2 separate regions of the Homo sapiens genome follow, and region 1 is linked to region 2. Evidence: fine-mapped expression QTL. A gene starts in region 2. The other region holds a variant in brackets. All regions are shown on one strand. Distances are between the middles of the regions. Region 1 holds the start of LOC124902306 (a long non-coding RNA gene). Region 2 holds the start of PPP1R26 (protein phosphatase 1 regulatory subunit 26).

Evidence for each region. PIP is the estimated chance that this variant, and not a neighbour inherited with it, causes the effect. A credible set is the group of variants that fine-mapping cannot tell apart.
Region 1: its variant is the best candidate, but not a certain one, in a credible set for the expression of PPP1R26 in whole blood (TOPMed, PIP 0.76).

The regions. Positions count from the first base shown.
Region 1 is chr9:135,436,992-135,446,467 of GRCh38, reverse strand. It overlaps LOC124902306 (a long non-coding RNA gene), which reads left to right and starts at 2,217. Exons shown (of 2, transcript XR_007061850.1): 1 at 2,217-2,598; 2 at 8,400-9,341. The variant C/T (reference allele first, on the strand shown) is at 4,885.
Region 2 is chr9:135,474,467-135,483,942 of GRCh38, reverse strand. PPP1R26 (protein phosphatase 1 regulatory subunit 26) reads right to left here and starts at 4,161. Exons shown (of 4, transcript NM_014811.5): 1 at 3,921-4,161; 2 at 1,128-1,260. RefSeq lists silencers at 3,520-3,569, 3,580-3,639.

The DNA.
Region 1 (9,476 bases), 37 kb after region 2:
CCACCCCAGCCAGCCCTTCCTCTTTACCTGTTTCCCCTCCCCTCCCCCCACCCCAGACAGCCCTTCCTATTCACCTGTTTCCCCGCCTCCCCCGTCTGGAATGGCTAAATACACTCTTTGGTGAAGTGCTGGGTCAGGCCTCTTGTCTATTTTTCCTATTGTGTTAATGATCATTTTTCTTGCTGCTTCATAAAATTTCTTTAAATAATAAAATGGAAATGACTGAAAATGGCTATTTTTGGTTACATATATTACAAATATTTTATTCCACTTTCTAACTTGCCTTTTCCTTTTCTTCCTGGAATCTTTTGATGAATAGAATCTCTTATCTTCTTCCCATTTTGAAAGCTGTGGTAAAATAGGCTGGGCATGGTGGCTCGTGCCTGTAATCCCAGCACTTTGAGAGGCCGAGGTGGGCTAATCATTTGAGGTCAGGAGTTCGAGACCAGCCTGGCCAACATGGCGAAACCCCATCTCTACTAAAAATACAAAAATTAGCCCGGCGTGGTGACCCACGCCTGTAATCCCAGCAACCCAGGAGGCTGAGGCAGGATAAATGCTTGAACCCAGGAGGTGGAGGTTGCAGTGAGCTGAGATCGCGCCACTGCACTCCGGTCTGGATGACAAAGCAAGACTCCTTCTCAAACAAACAAACAAAAAATTGTGGTAAAACAGACATAACATAAAATTTACCATCTTAACCCTTTTTAAGTGTAAAGCTTAGTTGCATTAAGTAAATTTATAATACTGTGCGGCCATTGCCACCAAGCATCTTCAGAACTCTTTCCACCTTGTAAAGCTGAAGCTGTACACTCATTCAACAACCTCCCACGATCCCCTTCCAGCTCCTGCAACCACCTTTCCACTCTGTCACCATGAATTGGACTGCTCTAGGCCCCTCACGTAAGTAGAATCCTAAAGCATCTGCCTTTATGTGACTGGTTTGTGTCGCTTAGCACAGTGTCCTTAAGATCCGTCCGCCCTGTAGCATGTGTCAGAATTGCGTTCCTTTTTTTTTTTTTTTTTTGACGGAGTCTTGCTCTGTCGCCCAGGCTAGAGTGCAGTGGCGTGATCTCGGCTCACTGCAAGCTCCACCTCCTGGGTTCACCCCATTCTCCTGCCTCAGCCTCCGGAGTAGCTGGGACTACAGGCGCCCGCCACCACGCCCGGCGAATTTGTTGTATTTTTAGTAGAGATGGGGTTTCACCGTGTTAGCCAGGATGGTCTTGATCTCCTGACCTCGTGATCCACCCATCTTGGCCTCCCAAAGTGCTGGGATTACAGGCATGAGCCACTGCACCCAGCTAGAATTGTGTTCCTTTTTAAGGCTGAATAATATTCCGTGGTTCGTATATACCACATTTTGCTTGTCCGTTCACCTGTGGGTGGACACTTGGGTTGCTTCTGTTTCAGTGATTGTGAATAATGCTGTTAGGAACACGGGTATGAAAATATTTCTTAGAGACCCTGCTTTCAATTCTTTTGCGTATATGCCCAGAAGAATTCCTGGACCATTTGGTTATTCTTTTTTTGCTTTTGTGAGGAAATGTCATAGTATTTCCCCAAGCAGCTGTACCATTTTATATTCTCATCAACAGTACGCAAATGAGTTTTTGTTTGTTTGTTTTGAGACAGGGTCTGGCTCTGTCCCCCAGGCTGGAGTGCAGTGGGGCCACCTCCACCTCCAAGGCTCAAGCGATCCTCCCACCTCAGTCTCCCGAGTAGCTGGGACCACAGGCACACACCACCATGCCTGGCTAATTTTCGTATTTTTTTTGTAGAGATAGAGTCTTGCTATGTTGCCCAGGCTGGTCTCAAACTCTTGGGCTCAAGTGATTTCCCGTCTTGACCTCCCAAAGTTCTAGAATTACCGGTGTCAGCCACCGTGTACGGCCCTGCAAATGTTTCAATTTCTTTACAGCTTCACCAACACTTTTTTTTTTTAGCAGTAGCCATCCTAATGGGTGTGAGGTGGTGAGGCGAGAAGCCATTTCTCTTACTGTCTCCTGTCTCTGAAAAAGAGGAGGAAGTAAAAGTTGAAAAACAACAGGAATGAAGTCAGTGGCAAGACCAGCTTGTGCCACTGATGACCCGGCCTGAGGTTAAAAGATTAAGCCCCGCCCCCCCCACTCTAACCACAGGTGCTCTCAATCCATCACGACCCTTTCACGTGGAACCACTTAGCCCTTAAAAGGGCCAGGAACTCTGTCTTCGGGGAGCTGGGCTCTTAAGACACCAGTCGGCCAATGCTCCCGGCCGAATGAAAAAACCTCTTCCTTCTTTAATCCGGTGTCTGAGGAGTTTTGTCTGCCGCTGGTCCTGTTACATTTCTTGGTTCCCTGACTGGGAAACGAGGTGATTAACGGACCGTTGAGGCAGCCCTTTAGGCCGCTTAGGCCTGCCCTGTGGAGCATCCCTGCGGGGGACTCCGACCAGCTCCAGCAACGCGGATCCTGAGAGCGCTCCCACGTAGGAAATTGCCCCGGTGGAACGCCTCGTCAGAGCAGCGCGTGGCAGGCCCCGGTGGAGGTTCAACGCAATGGCTGAACACCGGGAAGGAACTGGCACTGAACATCTGGTCTGGACATCTGAAACTTGGTAAGACTGGTCTTTGGAACTTGCCCACTCCATTTGAGTGGAAGTGTGGCTTGATCACCCATGGTGTGCCTGTACCGGCACTTTGGTTCTTGTTTTTGACTTGACTTGGATTGCTTGATACTTTGGTTTTGGTTTTGACCTGGCTTGGATTTCTGGATACTCCAGTTTTGGTTTTGATTCTGGTCTGGTGTAAACTGAGAAAGTGTGTGTGTGCCTTTTTTACCTGTTCTTTGTTCTGTGGTGTGCGTGTGGTGTGAGCGTGGTGTTTTGTCTCGAGGAAACGGGTCAGACACAAAGTAAGCCCACTCCGCTAGGAACTATGTTGAAAAATTTCAAGGAAGGATTTAATGGAGACTATGGGGTTACTATGACACCAGGGAAACTTAGAACTTTGTGTGAAATAGATTGGCCAACATTAGAAGTGGGTTGGCCATCAGAAGGAAGCCTGGACAGTTCCCTTGTTTCTAAGGTGTGGCACAAGGTAACCGGTAAAGGATACCTAGACCAGTTCCCATACATAGACACTTGGTTACAGCTGGTGCTAGACCCCCCACAGTGGCTAAGAGGGCAGGCAGCAGCAATGCTAGTAGCAAAGGGACAGATAGCCAAGGAAGGATCCCGCTCCACCCGCCCAGGGAAATCAACTCCTGAAGTTCTGTTTGACCCAACATCAGAAGATCCATTGCAGGAGATGGCACCAGTGATCCCAGTGGTGCCCTCCCCTTACCAGGGAGAGAGGCTCCCCAGTCTTGAGCCCACAGTGCTTGCACCTCTGCAAGACAAGCATATCCCTAGGCCACCCAGAATAGACAAGAGAGGAGGTGAAGCCTCGGGAGAAACCCCTCCCTTGGCAGCTCGTTTAAGACCCAAAACTGGGATACAAATGCACCTGAGAGAGCAGCAGTATACTGGGAGAGATGAGGATGGTCACATGGTGGAGAGGCGTGTTTTTGTGTACCAGCCCTTCACCTCTGCCGACCTTCTCAACTGGAAAAACAATACCCCGTCCTATACCGAAAAGCCACAAGCTCAAATTGATTTGCTCCCAACTATTATGCAGACCCATAACCCCACTTGGGCTGATTGCCACCAGCTGCTCATGTTCCTCTTTAATGCAGATGTAAGGTGGAGAGTGCTCCAAGCAGCAACTAAGTGGCTAGAGGAACATGCACCAGCTGATTATCAAAACCCCCAAGAGTATGTAAGGACCCAGTTACCAGGAACCGACCCCCAGTGGGGCCCAAATGAAAGAGAGGATATGCAAAGGCTAAAGGGAGACAGGGAAGCTGTCTTGGAAGGGTTAAAGAGGGGAGCTCAGAAGACCACAAACGTTAACAAGGTCTCTGAGGTCATTCAGGGAAAAGAAGAAAGTCCAGCACAATTCTCTGAGAGACTGTGTGAGGCCTATCGCATGTATACTCCCTTTGATCCCGATAGCCGTGAAAATCAGCGCATGATTCAAATGGCTTTAGTTAAAGCGCAGAAGACATTAGAAGAAAACTGCAGAAACAGACTGGGTTTGCAGGGATGAACACATCAGTTACTAGAAATAGCTAACCAGGTGTTTGTAAACAGGGATGCAGTAAGCCGTAAGGAAAACCGCAAAGAGAATGAACGTCAGGCCTGGCGAAAGGCCGACCTGTTAGCTGCAGCAATCAGAGGGGTCCCCCCAAAGAGGCCAGGGAAGGGGGCCCTGGGAAAAAACTCAACTTGGTTGTCAGAGCTTGCAGAGTAACCAGTGTGCTTATTGTAAAGAAATAGGATATTGGAAGAACAAATGCCCTCAGCTAAAAAGAAAACAAGGTGACTCAGAGCAGGAGGCCCCAGACGAGGAGGAAGGGGCCCTGCTCAACCTGGCAGAAGGGTTATTGGACTCAGGGGGACCGGGCTCAAGTGCCCCGAAAGAGCCTATGGTCAGCATGACAGTCGGGGGTAAAGACATTGATATTCTTGTAGATACCGTTGCTGAACATTCGGTAGTAACCGCCCCAGTTGCCCCCTTATCCAAAAAGACTATTGACATCATCGGAGCCATGGGGGTTTCAGCAAAGCAAGCTTTCTGCTTGCCTCGGACTTGTGCTGTAGGAGGACATACAGTGATTCGTCAGTTTCTGTACATGCCTGACTGTCCCTTGCCCTTGTTGGGAAGGGACTTGCTTAGCAAGCTGAGAGCCACTGTCTCTTTTACAGAGCATGGCTCTTTGCTGCTAAAGTTACCCGGAACGGGAGTCGTTATGACCCTTATGGTCCCCTGAGAGGAGGAATAGAGACTTTTCTTAACTGAGC[C/T]GGGCCAAGAGATAAGACCAGCTTTGGCTAAGCGGTGGCCAAGAGTGTGGGCGGAAGACAACCCTCCAGGATTGGCAGTCAACCAAGCCCCTGAATATGGAAGTTAAGCCTGGGGCCCAGCCGGTTAGGCAAAAACAGTCCCCAGTCCCCAGAGAAGCTCTTAAAGGTATCCAGGTTCGCCTCAAACACCTAAGAACTTTTGGAATTATAGTTCCTTGTCAGTCTCCATGGAACACTCCCCTCCTGCCTGTTCCCAAGCCAGGGACCAAGGACTACAGGCCGGTACGGGATTTGTGCTTGGTTAATCAAGCTACAGTGACTTTCCATCCAACAGTACCTAACCCGTCCACATTGTTGGGGTTGCTGCCAGCTGAGGACAGCTGGTTCACCTGCTTGGACCTAAAAGACGCTTTCTTTAGTATCAGATTAGCCCTTGAGAGCCAGAAGCTGTTTGCCTTTCAGTGGGAAGATCCGCAGTGAGGTGTCACTACTCAGTACACTTGGACCCGGCTTCCCCAAGGGTTTAAGAACTCCCCCACCATCTTCGGGGAGGCGTTGGCTCGAGACCTCCAGAAGTTTCCCACCAGAGACCTAGGCTGCGTATTGCTCCAGTATGTTGATGACCTTTTGCTGGGACACCCCATGGCAGTTGGGTGCGCCAAGGGAACGGCTGCCCTACTCCGGCACCTGGAGGACCGTGGGTATAAGGTGTCCAAGAAAAAAGCTCAGATCTGCTGACAGCAGATATGTTACTGGGATTTACTGTCCGACAGGGGGAGCGCAGCCTGGGATCAGAAAGAAAGCAGGTTATTTGCCATCTAGCGGAGCTTAAGAGCAGAAGGCAGGTGAGAGAATTCTTAGGACCTGTGGGGTTTTGTAGACTGTGGATCCCAAACTTTGCAGTATTAGCCAAGCATTTGTATGAGGTCACAAAGGGGGCGGGGACCGGGAACCTTTTGAATGGGGATCCCAACAACAGCAAGCCTGACTTAAAGAAAAAACGTACGTCAGCCCCAGCCCTGGGGCTGCCCGATCTGACAAAACCTTTTACATTGTATGTGTCAGAGAGAGAAAAGGTGGCACGTGGAGTTTTAACCCAAACTGTGGGGCCCTGGCCGAGGCCGGTGGCCTACCTCTCTAAACAACTAGATGGGGTTCCTAAAGGATGGCCCCCGTGTTTGAGGGCCTTGGCAGCAACTGCCCTGCTAGTACAAGAAGCAAATAAGCTGACTCTTGGGCAACACCTGAACATAAAGGCCTCCCGTGCTGTGGTGACTTTAATGAATACTAAAGGACATCATTGGCTAACGAATGCCACACTCACCAAGTACCAAAGTTTTCTCTGTGAAAATCCCCGTATAACCACTGAAGTTTGTAACATCTTGAACCCTGCCACTTTGCTCCCGGTGTTGTACCCGAGTGAATTAGAAAAACGCCACACTTTGAGACGAGTTAAGAGTCCTAACGCCACACTTTGAGACGAGTTAAGAGTCCTTTATTAGCTGGTGACCGAGAGAAAGCTAACGCTCAAAATTCTCTCGGCCCCGAGGAAGGGACTTGATTAATTTTTATACCCTGGTTTAGGAAGGGGAGTAGGGGGGTCTGGTTAAAACAATTTTACAGAAGTTAAGTAGTCAAAAAGTTAAAAGGATAAATGGTTACAGGAAAGTAAACAGTTCCAGGTGCAGGGGCTTTAAGACTATTACAAGGTGATAGATGCGGGGCTTTGGGCATTATCAATCAGATGAATTCTGGGGGACTGCGGATATAGCTTGCCACAGTATCTTATCAGTTAATTGCATTCTTGGATGTGCTGGGAGTCAGCTTGCACAAGTTAAGTCCTTGAGGAAGGGGCTGCCAATGAAAGAGCCAAGATGGAGTCTGTCTGGTTCTCTTAGCTAAGGGAGAGTCCATTCAGGTGGCAACAATGCTGCGTGATTAAAGGAAAAGGGGGAGTCTAAAAACAGGGTTAGTAAAAACGAGTTTGGGCGTTACACCGGTATCAGAGAGCCCTGTCGAGCATGATTGTGTAGAAGTGTTAGATTCAATTGACTCTAGCAGACCTGACCTCCGGGACTGGCCTTGGGCATCAGTAGACTGGGAACTATACGTGGACGGGAGCAGCTTCATCAACCCACAAGGAGAGAGATGTGCAGGGTATGCAGTGGTAACCCTGGACACCGTTGTTGAAGCCAGATCATTGCCCCAGGGCACTTCAGCCCAGAAAGCTGAACTCATTGCTTTCATTCGGGCCTTAGAGCTCAGGGAGGGTGAGACTGTCAACATTTACAGTGATTCTCGGTATGCCTTTTTAACCCTTCAAGTGCATGGTGCATTATATAAAGAAAAGGGCCTATTGAACTCTGGGGGAAAAGACATAAAATATCAACAAGAAATCTTGCAATGATTAGAAACAATATGGAAACCCCACAAGGTGGCAGTTATGCATTGCAGAGGACACCAGCGAGCTTCCACCTTGGTGGGTTTGGGGAATCCCCGCAGTGACTCAGAGGCTCAAAAAGCAGCATCTGCCCCCTTCTGGGCATCAGTCACAGCGCCTCTGCTCCCTCAAGCACCTGATCTTGTACCTACTTCTTCTAAAGATGAAAAGGACTTTCTCCAGGTAGAGGGAGGACAAGTGATGGAGGAAGGATGGATTCGGTTACCAGATGGGAGAGTAGCTGCACCACAGCTGCGAGGAGCTGCAGTTGTACTGGCTGTGCAGGAAACCACCCATCGAGGTCAGGAGTCACTGGAAAAGTTGTTAGGCCGGTATTTCTACATCTCGCATTTGTCAGCCCTTGCCAAAACGGTGATGCAGCAGTGTGTTACCTGCCAACAGCATCATGCGAGGCGAGGTCCAGCCATTCCACCCGGCATACAAACTTACGGAGCAGCCCCCTTTGATAGATCTCCAGGTGGACTTCACAGAAATGCCAAAGTGTGGAGGTAACAAGTATTTACTAGTTCTCGTGTGTACCCACTCTGGGTGGGTGGAGGCTTATCCAACACGAACTGAGAAACCTCGTGAAGTAACCCGTGTGCTTCTTCAAGATCTGATTCCTAGATTTGGACTGCCCTTATGGATCGGCTCAGATAACGGGCCTGCGTTTGTGGCTGACTTGGTACAGAAGATGGCAAAGGTATTGGGGATCACATGGAAACTGCATGCCGCCTACCGGCCTCAGAGTTCCGGAAAGGTGGAGCGGATGAATCGGACTATCAAAAATAGTTTAGGGAAAGTACGTCAAGAAACAGGATTAAAATGGATACAGGCTCTCCCTATGGTATTATTTAAAATTAGGTGTACCTCTTCTAAAAGAACAGGATATTCCCCTTATGAAATATTAATCATGGACCCTCTCCCTTATCGTGGGGACTTCCAGGAGAGTTAGGTGAGACTGAGTTACAGCGACAGCTACATGCTTTAGGAAAAATTACACAAACAATCTCAGCCTGGGTAAATAAGAGATGCCCTGTTAGCTTATTCTCCCCAGTTCACCCTTTCTCCCCAGGAGATCGAGTATGGATCAAGGACTGGAACGTAGCCTCTTTGTGCCCACGGTGGAAAGGACCCCAGACTGTCATCCTGACCACTCCCACCGCTGTGAAGGTAGAGGGAATCCCAGCCTGGATCCACCGCAGCCGTGTAAAACCTGCAGCGCCTGAAACCTGGGAGGCAAGACCAAGCCTGGACAACCCTTGCAGAGTGACCCTGAAGAAGACGACAAGCCCTGCTCCAGTCACACCCGGAAGCTGACTGGTCCACGCATGGCTGAAGCATGAGGAAGCTCATCGTGGAACTCATTTTTCATAAATTTTGGACTTGTACAGTAAGGACTTCAACTGACCTTCCTCAGACTGAGGTAGGGCAAAAAGTTAAAACAGTCTTTGTTTAAAAGGGACTTGTGTGTATAATGCCACCCAGTACAAGGTATGCAGCCCAGGAAGTGACCAGACTGATGTGTGCTATAACCCATTAGAACTACTTAATCCCCATTGGAAAAGAGGAGAGTATGTAACTCTAGGAGTCAATGGAACTGGACTGGCAGGAAGATCTGGGTAATGTAGATGAGAGTGAGAACTTCCACTAGTGAGTGAGGTTCTCAAAGAGGGGAATGAGGAGATAAGCCATTTCTCTTACTGTCTCCTGTCTCTGAAGAGGAGGAGGAAGAAAAAGTTGTAAAACAGCAGGAATGAAGTCAGTGCCAAGACCAGCCAGTGCCACTGATGACCCAGCCTGAGGTTAAAAGATTAACCATCCCCCCCACACCGCCCCCTCCGCCCGCCCACTCTAACCACATGTGCTTTCAATCCATCACGACCTTTTCGCATGGAACCCCTTAGAGTTATAAGCCTTTAAAAGGGCCAGGAACTCTGTCTTTGGGGAGCTCTGCTCTTAAGACGCGAGTCTGTCAATGCTCCCGGCCAAATAAAAAAACCTCTTCCTTCTTTAATCCAGCATCCGAGGAGTTTTGTCTGCAGCTCGTCCTGTTACAGTGGTATGTAATTGTAGTTTTGATACACTTTTCCCTAATGACTAGTGCTGTTGAGTGCCTTTTCATGCACTTATTGTCCACTTGTATATCTTC
Region 2 (9,476 bases):
GGAAAGTTGTATGATGTGAGCCACTCAGAAATTATTTCCCCAAACATCTTGAAGGGCTGCTTTTACTAAACCCTCTCTATGTTAAATGTCAAATGTAAATTTGCCAGGTGGTCGCATGGGACTGCATTGTTATTCTTAGCTAACTAGCACAGAAGTCACCCTGAACACAGTGATGTCCCCCTTCTCATCCTGCGCTGCCAGATTTCAGACCAAAGGTGGCTGCCTCAGCACAAGTGCTGGGCTGAGCTTGGGACACTTTGAAGACCTGCTCACGAATGGCCTGGGGATTGCCACTGCAGGGAGGAAGCTCAGGTGGATGGCAGTCACTTAGAACAATACCAGGGATACTGCGCAGCTATTCATTCTTAACACATTGCTCTGATACCCACCTGCCTACCCCAAAATTGCAGTGCAAAGCGGTTCTTGTGCAAGCAAGCCTCCAAGGCTTATGGACACTGAACTCCCCTTGGCTCAGAGGCTGTGGCTGCCCTCAGGACCTCAGCAGTGGGCGAAAACTGGCCAGTATGTTTTGCCTCTGTTATGGATTCTTCTTTACCAGGAGCTTTCTCCGGTTAACCAGGCGCTTCCTTCCTGACAAGCACATAATTGGGTATTTACATGCCACCATCTTTTCACAAAAACGTGAGGCTGTGGCCAGGTGTGGTGGCTCACGCCTGTAATCCAGCACTTTGGAAGGCCGAGGCGGGTGGATCACCTGAGGTCAGGAGCTCAAGATCAGCCTGACCAATATAGTGAAACTCCATCTCTACTAAAAAAACACAAAAATTAGCCGGGCATGGTGGCGCATGCCTGTAATCCCAGCTACTTGGGAGGCTGAGGCAGGAGAATTGCTCGAACCCAGGAGGTAGAGTTTGCAGTGAGCTGAGATCATGCCACTGCACTCCAGTCTGGGCGACAGAATGAGACTCCATCTCAAAAAAAAAAAAAAAAAAAAGAAAGAAAGAAAAAGAAACAAAAGGTGAGCCTGGCCACCTACACACAGGTGAGCCCAAAAGGGGTAACCAGCAATTAACCAGGGGGTGAGACAGATTCAGAAGTAAGTCATTTGCTAGCACCAATTTGTGCCCTACAAGGGAAACTAAAATACAAGAATTACTTGAAATTACTTGAAATTCTGTGAGTCCAGGTTGACTGTGATGAAATGGCAGCCAGTGTTCCCACACGGCCCAGAGATCAGGTCCTCATCACTCCACTTACACACCGAGGCATTCTCTCTCTGCTTTTTCAATAGACTTTTGACTACCAGAATCAAAGAGAATCAGAGGCATCTAATTACAGGCTGAAGCTACAGTTGATAAATTTTTTTTTTTTGGAAAGAAATATCATTAACTTAAGGGCTCAAAATTAACTTTTGAAGGAACTTACTCTAAGACATTTAACCACAAGTACAAATATATTTAACTTAATGTATTAAGACAAATACATTTAACCACAAGTAATGTATAGCTATCCTGGACAGCAGATCTGATGCTGGCTGAAGTGATGGGGATGGGGCACGTATGTGACGTTATCTGCTAGTTCTCAAATTCTGGCCACCCACTGCAGCCCATGACATCCCCCATAAAGTCACCTTCTGGAGAGATTCCCCACTGACACAGAGCACTGGGGGACCAACAATGCGAGAGGAGCTCTTTCACTGGCTAGCAAACCCACGCCTGCCTTACTGTAGGTGTTATTCAAATTGCCTCTGCAAAATGACATAAATGACAAAACATTTGCATTAGCCTTGGGCTGAGGAGCGTCTAAATTAAGACTATTGACTCCTTAAACAGCAATACTACCTTAAGAATACTACCTTAAATACTACCTTAAGAAAACCGGCCCAAGTCAGTGTCTTTACACTAGATGACAAGGTCGGGGAGGGGAGTTTTCCTGGGGAAATAGTCTGTTCTCCACTAGCCACATTTACAGCTTCTGACTGGTTGCAGAGAAGGCCTGGACACCCAGTGAACAGTTTTCTAAGTTGTCAAATCACCTAGTTCAAGAATGGTATTAAAAAATCTGGCCAGGTGCAGTGGCTGACGCCTGTAATCCCAGCACTTTGGGAGGCTGAGGCAGGTGGATCACCTGAGGTCAGGAGTTTGAGACCAGCCTGGCCAATATGGTGAAACCCCTCCTCTGCTAAAAATACAAAAATTAGCTGGGCGTGGTGGCGTGTGCCCGTAATCCCAGCTACTGGGGAGGCTGAGACAGGAGAATTGCTTGAACCCAGGAGGCAGAGGTTGCAGTGAGCCGAGATCGCGCCACTGCACTCCAGCCTAGGAGACAGAACGAGACTCCATCTCAGAAAGAAAAAAAAAAATCGAGGGGGGTCGTCTCCCCAGGACAGCTTGTGGCTTTAAAACATTATGCGAGATGAATCATTCTTGAAAAGCCCCCTGGGTCGGGGATAGTGGCTCACACCTGTAATCCCAGCACTCTGGGAGGTGGAGGCAGGTGGATCACTTGAGGCCAGGAGTTCGAGACCAGCCTGGCCAACATGGCGAAACCCCATCTCTACTAAAAACACATAAATTAGCTGGGCGTGGGAGCCCACGTCTGTAGTTCCAGCTACTCCAGGGGCTGAGGCACGAGAATCGCTTGAACCAGGGAGGCGGAGATTACAGTGAGCCGAGATCAGCCATTGCACTCCAGCCTGGGCGACAAAGCGAGACTCTGGCTCTAAAAAAAAAAAAAAAAAAAAAACAAGAAAAGCCCCCTAATCAGTCCTTAGAGATAGGTGTGGGCCCAAGCCAGAGGTGCAGGCTTTGTCAAATTGCTGCCTCAGGATACGGTCTTGAGGGTGGCTGTGGGGACACCCAGCACCTGCACCCCAAGGCCACACGGTGTCAGATTTTAGGAAGCGGTGGAGAACACTCGGGTACCTTCTCGGTCCAGACATCAACCTTCTGGAGAGAACCAAAGCACCCACACTGGGCCCTCGCCATCCTAACAGTCTGCCCACCTGTGAGAAACGCCCCCAAATACTCTACATTTCTCGGTTGGCCGAAAAGCAGCTCAGCCAGCGGTCTTACCTCCCAGGTGGGGTTTCCCCCCAGGGTAGGGAGGCCAGGGTCTGCAGGCCAGGGAGAGGAGCCCCGGTGCAGGAGCGGGCGGGGCAGCAGGAGGACCCGCTCCAGCCACCCAGAAGTGGGCGTGGGCTAGAATTCAGCTCCCAGCCTTCCAGAAGCTGCAATTTTACAACCTCACTACAAGCGTCCCCCAGCAAAGCTGCACCGCCATTTCCTGTGCTTGGGAACTGAAGGCAAGGTGAGCCCCTCCCGGCTGCCCCGGCCCGACCTCCCCTGACTCCCAAGCTTGGGCTACTCACGGCCTGCGGGCTGGGCAGGGTCCCCCAAGGGAGCTCCCCTCCCCGAGGGCGCGCTCACCCTAGCCGCTGGGATCGGCGACCTGGTCCTCGGCCCGGCGGGAGTGAACGCCTCCCAGGGAAGAGGCCGGGCCTCCAAGCAGGTCTGCACCCCCGGAGTTATGTTTCTGGGATCCGAGGACTAGCGAGCTTGGGGCCCGGGAGAGCGGCCACCCTCCCGGAAGCTCCGCCTGGCGCAGGGCGTGAACCGCAGTCTCCAGGCCGGCCGGGCCGCGGCCATTCTCGGAGGGCAGCGGCCGCCCCGGGCCGGGCCAAAGCTCCCCACCGCGGGCCCTCACCTGCGCCTCACCTGGGGCTCCAGGAGCGCGGGGCGCGCGGGCCGAGAGTCGCACGGAGGCCAGAGACAGGATCCCCGCCCGGGGAACGGAGCAGCCCCGGCGCCGATCCCCGTCCGCCTGCCTCGGGGAGCCCCCGCCGCCCGCCCGCCGCGGCCTGCACGGCGCGCCGGCCCCGGCCTGGCTGGCCCTCCTGTCCCCGACCCCCCAGCTTCCCAGCCCCCGAGCCCCCCGGCCCCGGCCCTGCACCCGCTCACCTCCGCCCGTCCCCCGCCGCCCGCCGCGCGGACCCCGCCTGCGCCCGCGTCCCACGTCCCGGGGGAGGCGGCGGGCCGGGGGCGGGCCGGAGGCTGCAGGGCCAGCGCGCTCCGCCCTCGGCCGGGGCGCGGGGAGGGGGCGCAGGGGCGTCCGGCCGGGCCCCCCGCCTCCCCGCCTCCCCGCGCGCCGCCGCTGCCGCCGCCCCGCGCCCGGGCCGCGCCGTGGGAAGCGCGGGAGGGGAGGGGCGGGGCGGGGGGCGGGGCGACCCCCCCAAGCCGCCCCCTCCCCGCGACCTACCGGACGGTGGCGGCGGCGGCCGCACTCCGGAAGCCGTGCCCGTGGCTGGGCATCATGGGAATGGCACGGCCGAGTTCCGGGGGAGGCGCGCGGCCCGGCCGGACCCCCGCCCGCGAGAGCGCGCCCACCTGCCGCCGCGCCCGCGCCCCGGGGACGCCCCCGCCCCGCCCCGCCCGGTTCGGACGCGGCCCCCTCCGCGGGGTGCGGGGCGAAGGCGCTTGGGCCGGGCCGAGCCCCGTGCTGCCCGCCTCCCGTACCGCGGCCACCTCCGGGGGGCGCGCAGGGGGCGCGGGGTCGCCGGGAAGTTCTGGGCGCGGGGGGCGTGGCCGTGGGAAAGCGCTCGGAGCCGCGGGAAGGGAGCGTGCGGGGCCCCGGCGCCAACCGAGTTCCTCCCCGAAGTTCACGCGGGGCTCCGGGCTGAGACCGGCCCGCCCGCCCCTCCAGCCCCACAGCCTTGGGCCGGGGTCGGGGGCGGCCCCCGCGTGTCCCCGCGGCTGCCCCACCCGAGCTTGCGGCGGGGAGTGGACGCACGACCTGCCCGGGGCGGCGGCTCCTCGAGCACACCTGCCGCCAGGTTCGGGGGAGGGAACAGTTTCTAGGAACTGCCCCGGACCTTGAGGCCGCTGCTGTTTCTGCTTCTGCTGTGCACTGACCATGTGACCTTGAAAGTCTTCCCAGTTTTGTTTTATAAAAGGTCCAGGGTGTGTGCCCGAGGCTGGCGGTGGCCCGGGTGTGCTCAGCATCCCCGGGCGGCGGGGAACGGGCAGACCCGACTGGATCCTCCCTCAGCGCCCACTCGTGGAAGGGGCAGATGGTGCGCAGGGGCACCGCGCTGCTTCTGTAAGCCCCCTGGGCCCTGATCCACACGTGTCTGGGAGATGAATTTGTGGGTTCGGTTCCTGTCTAGAAAGTGTCAGAGATTTGATAGGATCAAAATCAGAGACTTGCCTTGGAGGGGTGCTTCTAGTCATGCCAGCCTGGGAAGCTGGAGGGCCAGTTTTGGGTCAGGAAACCCATTAAAGAATTGTTTTAATGCCTTCGTGAATTTTTTCAAAAAGCAATTTTTTTTTTCTCATGAAATAATACTCTTTCATTACCAAACTTTGGGGAGATGATCTAATTAATAAGGTGACTTCCCAGAGACATGGGCTGTTAAGGTTTTGGCATGCTGCTTCACAGTTTTTAAAACAGTGCTGTGGTGAACAGCTTTCATGATGCCTCCTTAGAGCGGCTCTGAGCATTTCCTGCGGGCAAATCCCTAGAAGAGGCCGGCGGGCCAAAGACTATGCTGCATTTTGCCAAAATGCCCTCCAGAAATGCGGGGCCAGCCTGCCGTCCACCCACTGGTGAGCGGGCATGCCCGCTTGCCTGTCCTCTTGCCAGCCCTGAGATATGTCATTGCGTTATGTCTTTGGCAGTCTGATAGGCGAAACAGCCCTTTTCATCACTTGAATCCTAATTTCTTTGACTGCTGGTGATGTTGAACATCTTTTCATTTTATTATTGGCCATTTGGAATATTGCCTGTCTGTGTTCTTTGCCCATTTTTTATTTTTCTGTTGGGCTGTGTGTCTTTTTCTTAGGGATTCTAAGAGCTTGTTACCGTAAGGAATTTAGCTCTTCTCTGTGCTGTATGCTACTCTGTACAAGAGCGTAAATGCAATGTATGGTCGGGCGCGGCGGCTCACCCCTGTAATCCCAGCACTTTGGGAGGCCAAGTTGGGCAGATCACCTGAAGTCAGGAGTTTGAGACCAGCCTGGCTAACATGATGAAACCTCGTCTCTACTAAAAAATACAAAAATTAACCGGGTGTGGTAGCGGGTGCCTGTAATCCCAGATAATCGGGAGGCTGAGGCAGGAGAATTGCTTGAACCCAGGAGGTGGAGGTTGCAGTGAACCGAGACGGTGCCACAGCACTCCAGCCTGGGTGACAGAGCGAGACTCTGTCTCAGAAAAAAAGTGTATTGTACAACAGTACAATAACACAGAATATTGTACAGTAGTACAATATACTCTTGTACATTGCATTTATTTTTCTGTCATTTTTCTTTTGACTTTGGATTTTGGTTTTTTGTTTGTTCAACCTTTTTTTTTTTTTTTTTTTTTTTTTGAGACAGGGTCTTACTCTGTGTACACCCAGGCTGGAGTGTAGTGGCGTGATCATGGCACTGCAGCCTCAACCTCCCCCGGCTCAGGTTATCCTCCCACCTCAGCCTCCCCAGTAGCTGGGACTACAGGTGCACGTCACCACGCCTGGCTAGTTTTTGTATGTTTTTGTAGAGATGGGGTTTTGCCATGTTCCCCAGGCTGGTCTTGAACTCCTGGCTTGAGTGATCCACCCTCCTTGGCTTCCCAAAGTGCTGGGATTACAGATGGGAGCTACTGTGTCCTGCCTTTTTATTTTTTTACTACACACAAGTTTGAAGTTCTTCTGTAGCTAAATCAATCAAGTTTTCTTTTGTGGTTTCTGGCTTTGGGGTAAGGCCTGGAATAGCTTTTACCACTCTAAGATTTCATAATCATTCACCAGTTTAATCCCTGCATTCCAAAGTAAGAGAACAGTGGAGGGCATGGAGGGGTGTGACCTGGGGCTCTTGGGGAATTCCTGGGCCAGAGTGTGTGGCACGTAATAATAGTTTCTCAAAACAGGGAACACTTGTACTCCTTTTTTGAAGCTACCGATGTTCAGAGATTGGTTGGTTGGTGCTTTTTTTTTTTTTTTTATTAAATTCTTAGGAGGCCTCAACAGTGCCTTGTGAGGCCTTCATTGGAGGAACAGGAGGGGCGTCTGTCATTGTCAGACTCTCCTGTTGTGAGAGGCTCTGGCCTTGGCCTTGGGACCCCCTAGTCAGGCTCCTCACTGTGCAGTCTGTGCCTCCGGGGATCAGCACGCAGGGTCACCTTCATTATCCGCCATGGAGGAAGTGAGGACTCCTGGCATCTTTCTGCCCAGCCCGGGGCTCTGCTGTCCATGGGTGGATGGGCGGTGGCAGCAGGGACAGGTGCAGTGGGCTGCACGTCTCACCTGAGGGGCTCTGGTGGGCTCTTGGGTCCCTATGTGGCTGTTGCTCCCCTCTGGGCCTCTGCTTGGCCTTCTGTGAAGGGCACAAAGAGTCCAGTGGGACCACATGAAGGTCACTCTCCATGTGGAGTGGAGAGACCGCCTGGGAGAGATGGCTGAGGGCCTGCTGGGGACCAAAGTCTGAGCTCATAAAGAAAAGCCAGCAGTTCCTCTGTTGCTCTTTTCCTTTACAGAATTAGTTACATTGTCATAATTAAAGAAAACTCAAGGGCTGGGCTCAGTGGCTCATGCCTGTAAACCCAGCACTTTGGGAGGCCGAGGAGGGCGGATTGCCTGAGATCAGGAGTTCAAGACCAGCCTGGCCAGCATGGCGAAACCCTGTCTCTACTTAAAAAAAAAAAAAAAAAAAAAAAAAAAATTAGCTGGGTGTGGTGGTGCACACCTGGAATCCCAGCTGTCAGGAGGCTGAGGCAGGAGAATCGCTTGAACCTGGGATGGGAGACTCTGTCTCAAAACAAAAACAAAGAAACTCATGTGAAAGAAGGCAACATTTCCCCCCAACACAAGGAAGCTCCACAGTCCCCTGGGAGGACCCAAGGATGCAGGCGCCCCAGACCCTGCTGGCAGGAGGACACAGTGTCTGTTGGGAGGTCATCCTGCTGTGTCTGTTAACTATAAATTGCAGGTCACATTTGAGTGTTGCTTAGCCCTTCGTCCTGAAGTTACTTGCAGTTTGTCCAGGCACGCGCCAACAAGGACTGCTCCAACCTTGTCAAAGCAGAACCCCCGTAAGTGACCAGATGGGGAGAGTGAAATGAACCCTGGAACCTCCTGCACCTCTGGGCCTCTGCTGGAAGGGAGGCGGGTCCGTGTGCCCCAGTGCAGAAGGAGTCCAGGGAGCATAAGAAAGTGGAAAACGCTTGCAGCAGAATGATGTAAAGTGTCACCCCGGTGCATTTTCAGAATCAGGGTGGGCTGGCGTGCCACCTGGCAGAACACGCACGAAGATGTCAGGACCCGTGTGAGCGGCCTGAGTGGAAGGCCAGCAAGGGGGAGGGGAGGTTTTGGTGTTGTCTTTTGGTGTTGTCTTCTTTTATACCATTTAAATTTTCAAAACGGTGAGCATACCAGTCTCACGCCTGTAATCCCAGCACTTTGGGAGATGGAGGCGGGTGGATCAGTTGAGGTCAGGAGTTCGAGACCAGCCTGGCCAACGTGGTGAAACCCCGTCTCTACTAAAAATACAAAAAAAAAAAAAAAAAAAAAAAAAAGATTAGCCAGACATGTTGGTGGGTGCCTGTAATCCCAGCTACTTTGGAGGCTGAGGCAGGAGAATTGCTTGAGCCCAGGAGGCAGAGGTTGCAGTGAGCCGAGGTTGCACCATTGTACTCCAGCCTGGGCAGCAAGAGCAAAACTCCATCTCAAAATAAATAAATGAATAATAAATAAAATAAAAAATAAAATGGTAGGCACTGCTCTCCTATGTATGTAAACCGACTGACATAGGCTGTTTAACAGAAGGACATGAATATTCATGACTGTGAGCACAGCCCTGCGCACGCTCGGCTGTCCGTGGAGACCCGCCACCAGGTGGGGCAGCTGGCACTCTCCATCCGGACCCGGAGCCCGCAGAAAGGGGGCCAGTCCCTTCCCACCCGGGTCCAGGGAGCCCACTGGATTCAATCTTTAGAAATTCTATTTCTGCAAAAGAATTTTCGAAACCATTTACCCCAGAAGTGACTCTGCATGGCTTTATTTGGGTTCATTTCTTGATCGTTATGTTCTTAGAATTTTCCTGGCGTGAATTTTACCCTGTTTATTACTTACAATGTCAGGGGACAACGTGACTTGATGATGATCTGTTTATGAGGGAGCGTTTTAAGCTGAAACGGAAAATAAGCCCCCGAGACAGAATTATTCAGGAGACCCCGCGTGCATCGTCAGTGGGAAATGAGGACATGTCACCTTGGGTTTATTCAAGAGCAGGGTGCCTCCAATTCAGGATCTGGGAGGAAAATGACTTTCTCGCTCTGATTCCCTGCAGAAAATAAATTGGGCGAGGGCCCTTATTCTTACTAGACACTGTTTCTACGTTTGCTCCTCTCCTCAAACAGGAGGGCCTGGAGGGGCCAGCAGGAGTGCGGCGGGACAGGTGACCCCCTCCTCAAAGGCAGGAAAACCTTGCAGAGTAAAAGGCAGAGGTGACAAAGGCCAGAGGAAGTGGGCATCTCTGACC